2 linked regions of the Homo sapiens genome follow. The protein of the gene in region 2 interacts with the protein of the main gene of each other region in a pairwise test. Each region holds a gene or a part of one and is shown on either strand. Other genes may lie near its edges.

The links. Proteins that work in one complex are often made in the same cells at the same time.
Region 1: the proteins of TAP2 (region 2) and RBM18 interact in a two-hybrid assay, tested with the Homo sapiens proteins (one large-scale study listed by BioGRID and IntAct).

What each region holds. Positions count from the first base shown.
Region 1 is NC_000009.12:122,258,212-122,262,077, forward strand, and holds part of RBM18 (probable RNA-binding protein 18), read right to left. Parts: intron 3,298-3,866; 5' UTR 3,282-3,297; coding exon 3,169-3,281; intron 1-3,168.
Region 2 is NC_000006.12:32,832,205-32,836,070, reverse strand, and holds part of TAP2 (antigen peptide transporter 2), read left to right. Parts: intron 1-297; coding exon 298-428; intron 429-711; coding exon 712-917; intron 918-3,246; coding exon 3,247-3,444; intron 3,445-3,609; coding exon 3,610-3,738; intron 3,739-3,866. UniProt on the Homo sapiens protein: ABC transporter associated with antigen processing. In complex with TAP1 mediates unidirectional translocation of peptide antigens from cytosol to endoplasmic reticulum (ER) for loading onto MHC class I (MHCI) molecules.

The sequences.
Region 1 (3,866 bases), on a different chromosome or scaffold from region 2:
TGAGGTAATATTAATATTTCATGTTAACCATAAGCTATGATTGGTAGTTCTTTCTTTCTTTCTTTCTTTCTTTTTGAGACAGATTCTTGCTCTGTCGCCAAGGCTGGAGTGCAGTGGTGTGATCTCGGCTCACTGCAACCTCTGCCCTCCGGGTTCAAGTGATTCTCCTGCCTCAGCCTCCTGAGTAGTTAGGACTACAGGCAACCGCCACCACGCCTGGATAATTTTTGTATTTTTAGTAGAAATGGGGTTTCACCACATTGGCTAGGATGGTCTCGATTTCCTAACCTTGTGATTCACCCGCCTCGGCCTCCCAAAGTGCTGGGATTACAGGTGTGAACCACCGTGCTCAGTGGTAGTTATATCTTTAAGCATAAATTTATTACAATTTAATAAACCAGTCTGTTTGACAGATAAAATGTTTTAAGGTAAAGAATCCATAGGATGGCCAGGCATAGTGGCTCACGCCTGTAATCCCAACACTTTGGGAGGCTGATCAGGAGGATTGCTTAAGCCCAGGAGTTTGACAACAGCCTAGGAAACATACTGAGACCCCTGTCTCTACAAAACAAAAACAAAAAACAACAAACTAGCCAGGCATGGTGGCGAGCACCTGTAGTCCCAGCTACCCAGGAGTTCTAGGTTGCCATGAGCTATGATTGTGCCACTGTACTCAAGCCTGGGTGACAGAGCTGTCAAAAAAAAAAAAAAAAAAGAAGAAGAAGAAAAAAGAATCTATAGGAAAAAATAATAAAAATGGTCTTTTGTGATACAGAAGTGGAGAAGCCAGCCACAGGGAAAGCCCAGCACTTCCAGCCAGCATGCTCTGATCTAGTTTATTACTTGATGTCTACCTCTGGCCTGATGTAAAAAGAGCAGAGATATCAGTGGGAAAGTTCTGATTCAATGTTCCTGCCAATGTTCTAATTGAAAAAAACATCCACACACTCCAACTTATGACATAAACTGAGGTGGCAAATGCCCATTTGAACCTTCCCGTCAAGCAGCAGGACACAATTAGAACAAAAGTCTCATTACAGAGAAGTGCAGCCAACACAACCAACGCTGTTTCCACACTTTAGATTTCCATTTAGACAGGCAGAGGTGGGAATGGAAACCACTATGAGCATCCCCTCATAGCCTGGGTTTTGGATGATGGAAAAAATTTCTTTGATGAAGAGACATTAATTGAGAGGTTGGACAGATTCATATACTCACCCTCAAAAGCCATGAACCGTAAAAGAGAACTGAAATAAATGCAATCCACTCTAGGGTCCCTGTGACCAAGATAACATAATATGTGGGCAACACATCTTAAATACCGTCATAATTTCTAAGGGAACTGAATATATTTACATTTGGCTGATATGAGCTTGAGCAGGTTTAAGGAACTTTTTGTTATAATCCTGATTTATAAGGTTATATCCTTTTCTTCTCTTTCCTAATCTTAACTCTCATATATACCTTGTCTCATCTCATACTCAAAGAAGCAGGTTTCCTCATCTCCTCCCTTCACCTTTCGCCCAGGCTGGAGTGCAGTGGCACAATCTCCGTGCACTGCAACCTCCGCCTCCCAGGTTCAAGCAATTTTCGCGCCTCAACCTCCCAAGTAGCTGGGACTACAGGCATGCACCACCATGCCTGGCTAATTTTTTCATTTTTAGTAGAGACGGGGTTTCACCATGTTGGCCAGGCTGGTCTCAAACTCCTGACCTCAAGTGATTCGCCTGCCTCGTCCTCCCAAAGTGCTGGGATTATAGGCGTGAGCCACTGTGCCCGGCCTCCCCTTGTCTTTAACACTATTCTAAAGGGAGTAACTTCTAGGACTGATGATATGCTCAAAACTTGCTTTCTGCCTGGCATGGCGGCTTAAGTCTGTAATCCCAGCACTTTGGGAGGCCAAGGTGGGTGGATCATTTGAGGTAAGGAGTTCGAGATCAGCCTGGTCAACATGGTGAAACCCCATTTCTACTAAAAACACAAAAATCAGCCAGCATGGTGGCGCATGCCTGTAGTCCCAACTACTCGGGAGGCTGAGGCATGAGAATTGCTTAAGCCCAGGAGGTGGAGGTTGCAGTGAGCCAAGATTGTGCAACTACACTCCAGCCTGGGCAACAGAGCAAGACTGTCTTAAAAACAAAAACAAAAACAAACAAACAAACAAAAAAACTGGCTTTCAGCATTGACCTCATACAGGCCAATCCACTCATTGTACTCTGCCACCAACCACCACCCTCCCTCTATCAAATAACTGGCAGAAGGGAAAAACCTCTCAATTTTCTCAGCTAAGAAATTCCTTTTCATCTTAATGGCTGTGATGTAAAAGAGCAGGGAGTCAGGGCAATTCAATCAATTTCGTGAACTCGGGCAAGGTACTTCTGTCTTTCGGGACTTGGTTTCCTCTATGTAGGATAAAAAAGCTGGGTCCCATCAGAGGTTGTCAAGTGTGCTCTATGGAGCCCTGGAAGTTCTACAGAGCCTAAACAGGGATGGCCAAAGAAAGGGTAGTAGTTGACAAAAGATTTTGGTTCCATCTCTTCTCCCTTTTAGTCAGAGCAACTCTGAGCTCTTATTTTATATACAGCTCTGATTATTACTTTTACTCTAAGACAGGGTTCTTCAGATTTAAGAAGTCTGCAAACTGCTTAGCATGGCACTTGGCACTCAAATCATTTAATGAATGAATGAAAACCAAAGGGACATGATTTCTAAGGTTCCTTACAACTCTGACCTTCTATAGTTCTATGGCTGCTTAATATGAATTACAGTCAAGTGGTCTCCTCTGCCTGTTTGCAAAGGTACTGAGACTTCTGCTTGTTCCTTTATTCTGGGTACAAATGTATTCCCAAGGCTGATTCTAGAGAATAATTCCCTAGAGCTACTAGGTACAAGGATTCAAATAGTTGGAAATGGGAGAACGTCTTTGGCAGATAGGAAAAAAACAGGTATATGGATTAAAGGATACCCAAGTCTGTGTCCTTGCAGTAGCAGAGTCCAAATGTAAAAAAAGTGACAAGATAACAGGCTAACAACATCTTATCTCTCCGAAGACACGATGTAAGTAAAAGGGTCTAAGTATATCCCACACCCCTTGAAAATTCTTCTTGACATCATCACCACAAAACATCCCAATATTGTAGGTAAAAAACTAAGGTAACTTAGACTTACTCGGTAATTTTGGGGTCCAGGTTGCCAATCCATAATCGGTGTCCTTCCTGCAGAGAGCCCTCTGAAAGGATGGATGCATTCTCCAGGGGAAGAGTTTTGGTTTCTGCTTCCATCAATGTCTATGAAATACTAAAGGAAATGTGAACATTCAGGCAGGAGGGGAGTAACAATGTGTGAACACAAGACTTCAAATTCAACTCAACAAACATTTATTCAAGGAGGGCATGCCCTCTGGGCAGTCCTTCAAAGGCCTCAGTGATTCCACAACCAGGGCCCCAGAACCAGTTCCCTTGGGACAACTGCTCTGGCAGCCAGGGCACACAAGCTGCCATTTAAGGTGAAAGGGGCGTGGTTCTGTGTGGAGAAACTAAAGTTTTCCTCCTCTGAAGCCAGAGGCTGACTGGGCAGGAGGCCAAAGTCTCTATTACTACATGATACTTCAGTTCAACAACTGTCACCCAAAATAAGCCTTGGAAACCACCAGGAAGAGTCTTAATGGCATTAAAAGGGATGGGTAGGGAAGAGCAGCACTCCATCCCTTTTCCTCATGGAAGAGGCAATATAGCAAAGAGAAGAGGCAATATAGCAAAGAGAAGAGGCAATATAAGAAATCTGTGCGTAGACAGAACTGGGTTTGAAAGCAGGTTGTGTGACTTGATGAACTACCTGAACTTTCTAGGCCTCAGTTTCCTCATTAT
Region 2 (3,866 bases):
TTGTAGTTTTCTATTGTGTCTAGTACAGAGTGCACTCCATAAATACTTGTAAATTTGTACATGTTATGATTTTGTTCTCACATCTAGCTCACCATGTCTCCTCTTTCTTCTTCCTCTGTGTATTCCTTACCTCTTCTCTCTCTGTGTGTCTGTCTCTCATTTCTTTCTCTTTTGCCCCTCCTGGCATGCTTTCCCCTGACTTTGCGCTTCTCTGCACTCCTGGCTTGCTCCTCTGTTTCACCCGCTGGCTTGCTCCTTCTCTGCATCTCCCTCCCCTCTTATTCTCCTACCCCACAGCTCACTGTCTGCAGGCTGCCGAGGAGGCTGCTTCACCTACACCATGTCTCGAATCAACTTGCGGATCCGGGAGCAGCTTTTCTCCTCCCTGCTGCGCCAGGACCTCGGTTTCTTCCAGGAGACTAAGACAGGTGGGGCCTGGAGTCCAGGTCTGAGATTCCCATGGACATCCCTTGCCCCTCAGTGACCTTCCACCCACAGCCTCTCCTCCTGCCTTCACCCGTATGCCAGGACTTGGGGATGCTTTTCTCTTGTTTGGGACAGGGTGGAGAAGCAGCCTCCACTGTCCCTCTGCAAGTGAAGGAGGATGTTCAGAGGAGGGGGCTGTGTCAGAGGGAACGGTCAGGAGGGAGTTTCTGGGGGCCCTGCAGTACACATGGTTTCCTTTTTCCTCACCTGCTCTGTCCTTCTTAGGGGAGCTGAACTCACGGCTGAGCTCGGATACCACCCTGATGAGTAACTGGCTTCCTTTAAATGCCAATGTGCTCTTGCGAAGCCTGGTGAAAGTGGTGGGGCTGTATGGCTTCATGCTCAGCATATCGCCTCGACTCACCCTCCTTTCTCTGCTGCACATGCCCTTCACAATAGCAGCGGAGAAGGTGTACAACACCCGCCATCAGGTGAGCGTGCATGTAAGGGAACCCCAAAGGGAGAATAAAACTGACAGGTGAGGAGGCTTCCACATTTGTGGCTAGAGGATCCCCTAGAGAGAGATGTTCTCTTCTCAGCCATTAGGGGAGAAGGTATATTGTAGTATATACTACATTTTGTTTGTCCAGCCATCCAACAATGGATATTTGACTTCAGAAGATTCATGATTCTCCAGAACTGTAAACAAAAATGTAAAGTGTATGTGAAGGTATGGGGGAGGGAATAGGAAGGGGAGATGATAGGCGATGATAACTTTTCATTAGCTTCTCAAAGGAGTCTGTACATCCCCCGCCCCCACTGCGAAGATTAAAAATGGTTTCTTAGAGGCTTTTAGGCAGGGAGATTTTCCCTTTAAAATCAGCAGAAGAAGTCTGGATGCAGCATAGGGAAAGGAGGCGTCATCAGGAAGTCCTAAGTCTGAATGTCAGCTCCACCTTCTCTTTTTCTCTTATATTGTGGTAAAACATACATAACATAAAATTTACCATTTCAACCATTTGAAGTGTACAGTTCAGTGACATTTAGGAAACCCACATTGTTATTGGGTAACCATCATCACCATCCATCTCCAGAACTTTTTTCATCTTCCTAAAATGAAACTCTGTACCCACTAAATAGTAACTGCCTACTACCCCCAACCCCTGGCCGCTGGCAACCTCCATTGTACCTTCTGTCTCCATGAATTGTGATGACTCCCGGTGCGGTACGTAAGTGGAACCATACAGTATTTGTCTTTTTGTGACTGGCATATTTTACTTAGCGTAATGTCTTCAGGCCTCATCCATATTGTAGCATGTGTTAGAATTTCCTCCCTTTTAAGGCTGAATAATATTCTGTTGTGTGCATATATCACATTTTGATTATCCATTCATCTGTCAATGGACATTTGCGTTGTTTCCACCTTTTGGCTGTTGTGAATTATGCTGCTGTGGACATGAGTGTACACCTGTTTGAAACCCTGCTTTTGGTTCTTTTGGGTATATACTTAGAAGTGGAGCTGCTGGATCATATGGCAATTCTATTTAACAATTTTTGAGGAACCATGTATTAGTCCATTTTTACGCTGCTGATAAAGACATACCCAAGATTGGGCAATTTACAAAAGAAAGAGGTTTATTGGACTTACAGTTCCATGTGGCTGGGAAGACCTCAAATCATGGCGGAAGGTGAAAGACACATTTCACATGGCAGCAGACAAGAGAAAAGACAGCTTGTGCAGGGGAATTCCCCTTTTTAAAACCATTATATCTCGTGAGACTTATTCAATATCACAAGAACAGCATGGGAAAGACTTGCCCTCATGATTCAATTACCTCCTACCCAGTCCCTCCCACAACACATGGGAATTCAAGATCAGATATGGGTAGGGACACAGCCAGATCGTATCAAACCACCATACAGTTTTCCATAGCGGCAGCACCATTTTAAATTCCCACCAGCAGTGCATAAGGTTTCCAATTTCTCCACATCCTCATCAACACCACTTTCTGTTGTCTTTTTTTTTAATAGCCATTCTAATGGTGATTAGGTGATTAGGATTATCTCATTGTGGTTTTGATTTGCATTTCCCTAATGATTAGTAAATATTGAGCATCTTTTCGTGTGATTTTGGCCACTTATGTTTCTTTCTTGAAAGAATGTCTGCAAGTTCTTTGCCCATTTTCTGATTTTTTTTTAAGTTGTGGGAGTTCACTATATGTTTTGCCTATTAATTTCCTATCAGATATATGATTCACAAATATTTTCTTGTATTTCATGGTTGCTTTTTCACTCTGTTGCTAGAGTTCTTTGATGCACAAACGTTTTAAATTCTGATGAAGTCTGATTTATCTATTTTTTGTTGCCTGTGCGTTTGGTGTTATATCCAAGAAATCACTGCCAAATCTAGTGGCATGAGGCTTTTCTTCTACATTTTCCTAGGAGTTTTATAGTGTTAGCTCTTATGTTTAGGCCTCTGATCCATTTGGAATTACATCTCCACCTTTCTTAACTATCTGTGGCTCCTTGGGAAAACTACCCTTCTTTCCTGATTCAGACACTGGGGATGGGAAAATTACCTCAAATGAAGGTTAAAAAAATTGCATGTATCTCCTATACTACCTAACACTGAGAGCTCAATAATATTTTGTTCCCTTGCTCCTTCACTCTTATTCCTTCTGGAAAGAAGAGTAAGGAAGAGGGAGAGAAACAGTTTGGTATTTTTAGGTAGACTAGGGAGCATCTCACTGGCTGGAGTAAGATGTGGGGGCCTGCTGTCTTTGCACATCAGCCCTGGTGTTTGCTGGCCCTCTTTTCCAGGAAGTGCTTCGGGAGATCCAGGATGCAGTGGCCAGGGCGGGGCAGGTGGTGCGGGAAGCCGTTGGAGGGCTGCAGACCGTTCGCAGTTTTGGGGCCGAGGAGCATGAAGTCTGTCGCTATAAAGAGGCCCTTGAACAATGTCGGCAGCTGTATTGGCGGAGAGACCTGGAACGCGCCTTGTACCTGCTCGTAAGGAGGGTAAGATACCAGAGTGGTTGTGAAAGGAGCCCAGGAAAGGGGGAGGGCAAGGGAAGAGGAAACTACAGCTGGTTCTAGAGGCCTTTGCAGCTCAGTCTCATAGAGGCAGAGAGGGGGAAAGAATGGGAAGATTCCCAGCCTCATCTCTTTCTTCTCCTCTTCCAGGTGCTGCACTTGGGGGTGCAGATGCTGATGCTGAGCTGTGGGCTGCAGCAGATGCAGGATGGGGAGCTCACCCAGGGCAGCCTGCTTTCCTTTATGATCTACCAGGAGAGCGTGGGGAGCTATGTGCAGGTGAGCGAGAAGCCAAGCCTGCTCTCCTTTTTTCCCTCTCTTTTTCTTTGTGGACTCCTGGGCCTTGGGCTTTATTTGTTCTTTTTAACAATACAATACAAAACCAAAACCCGCAAGTAATTTTGCTA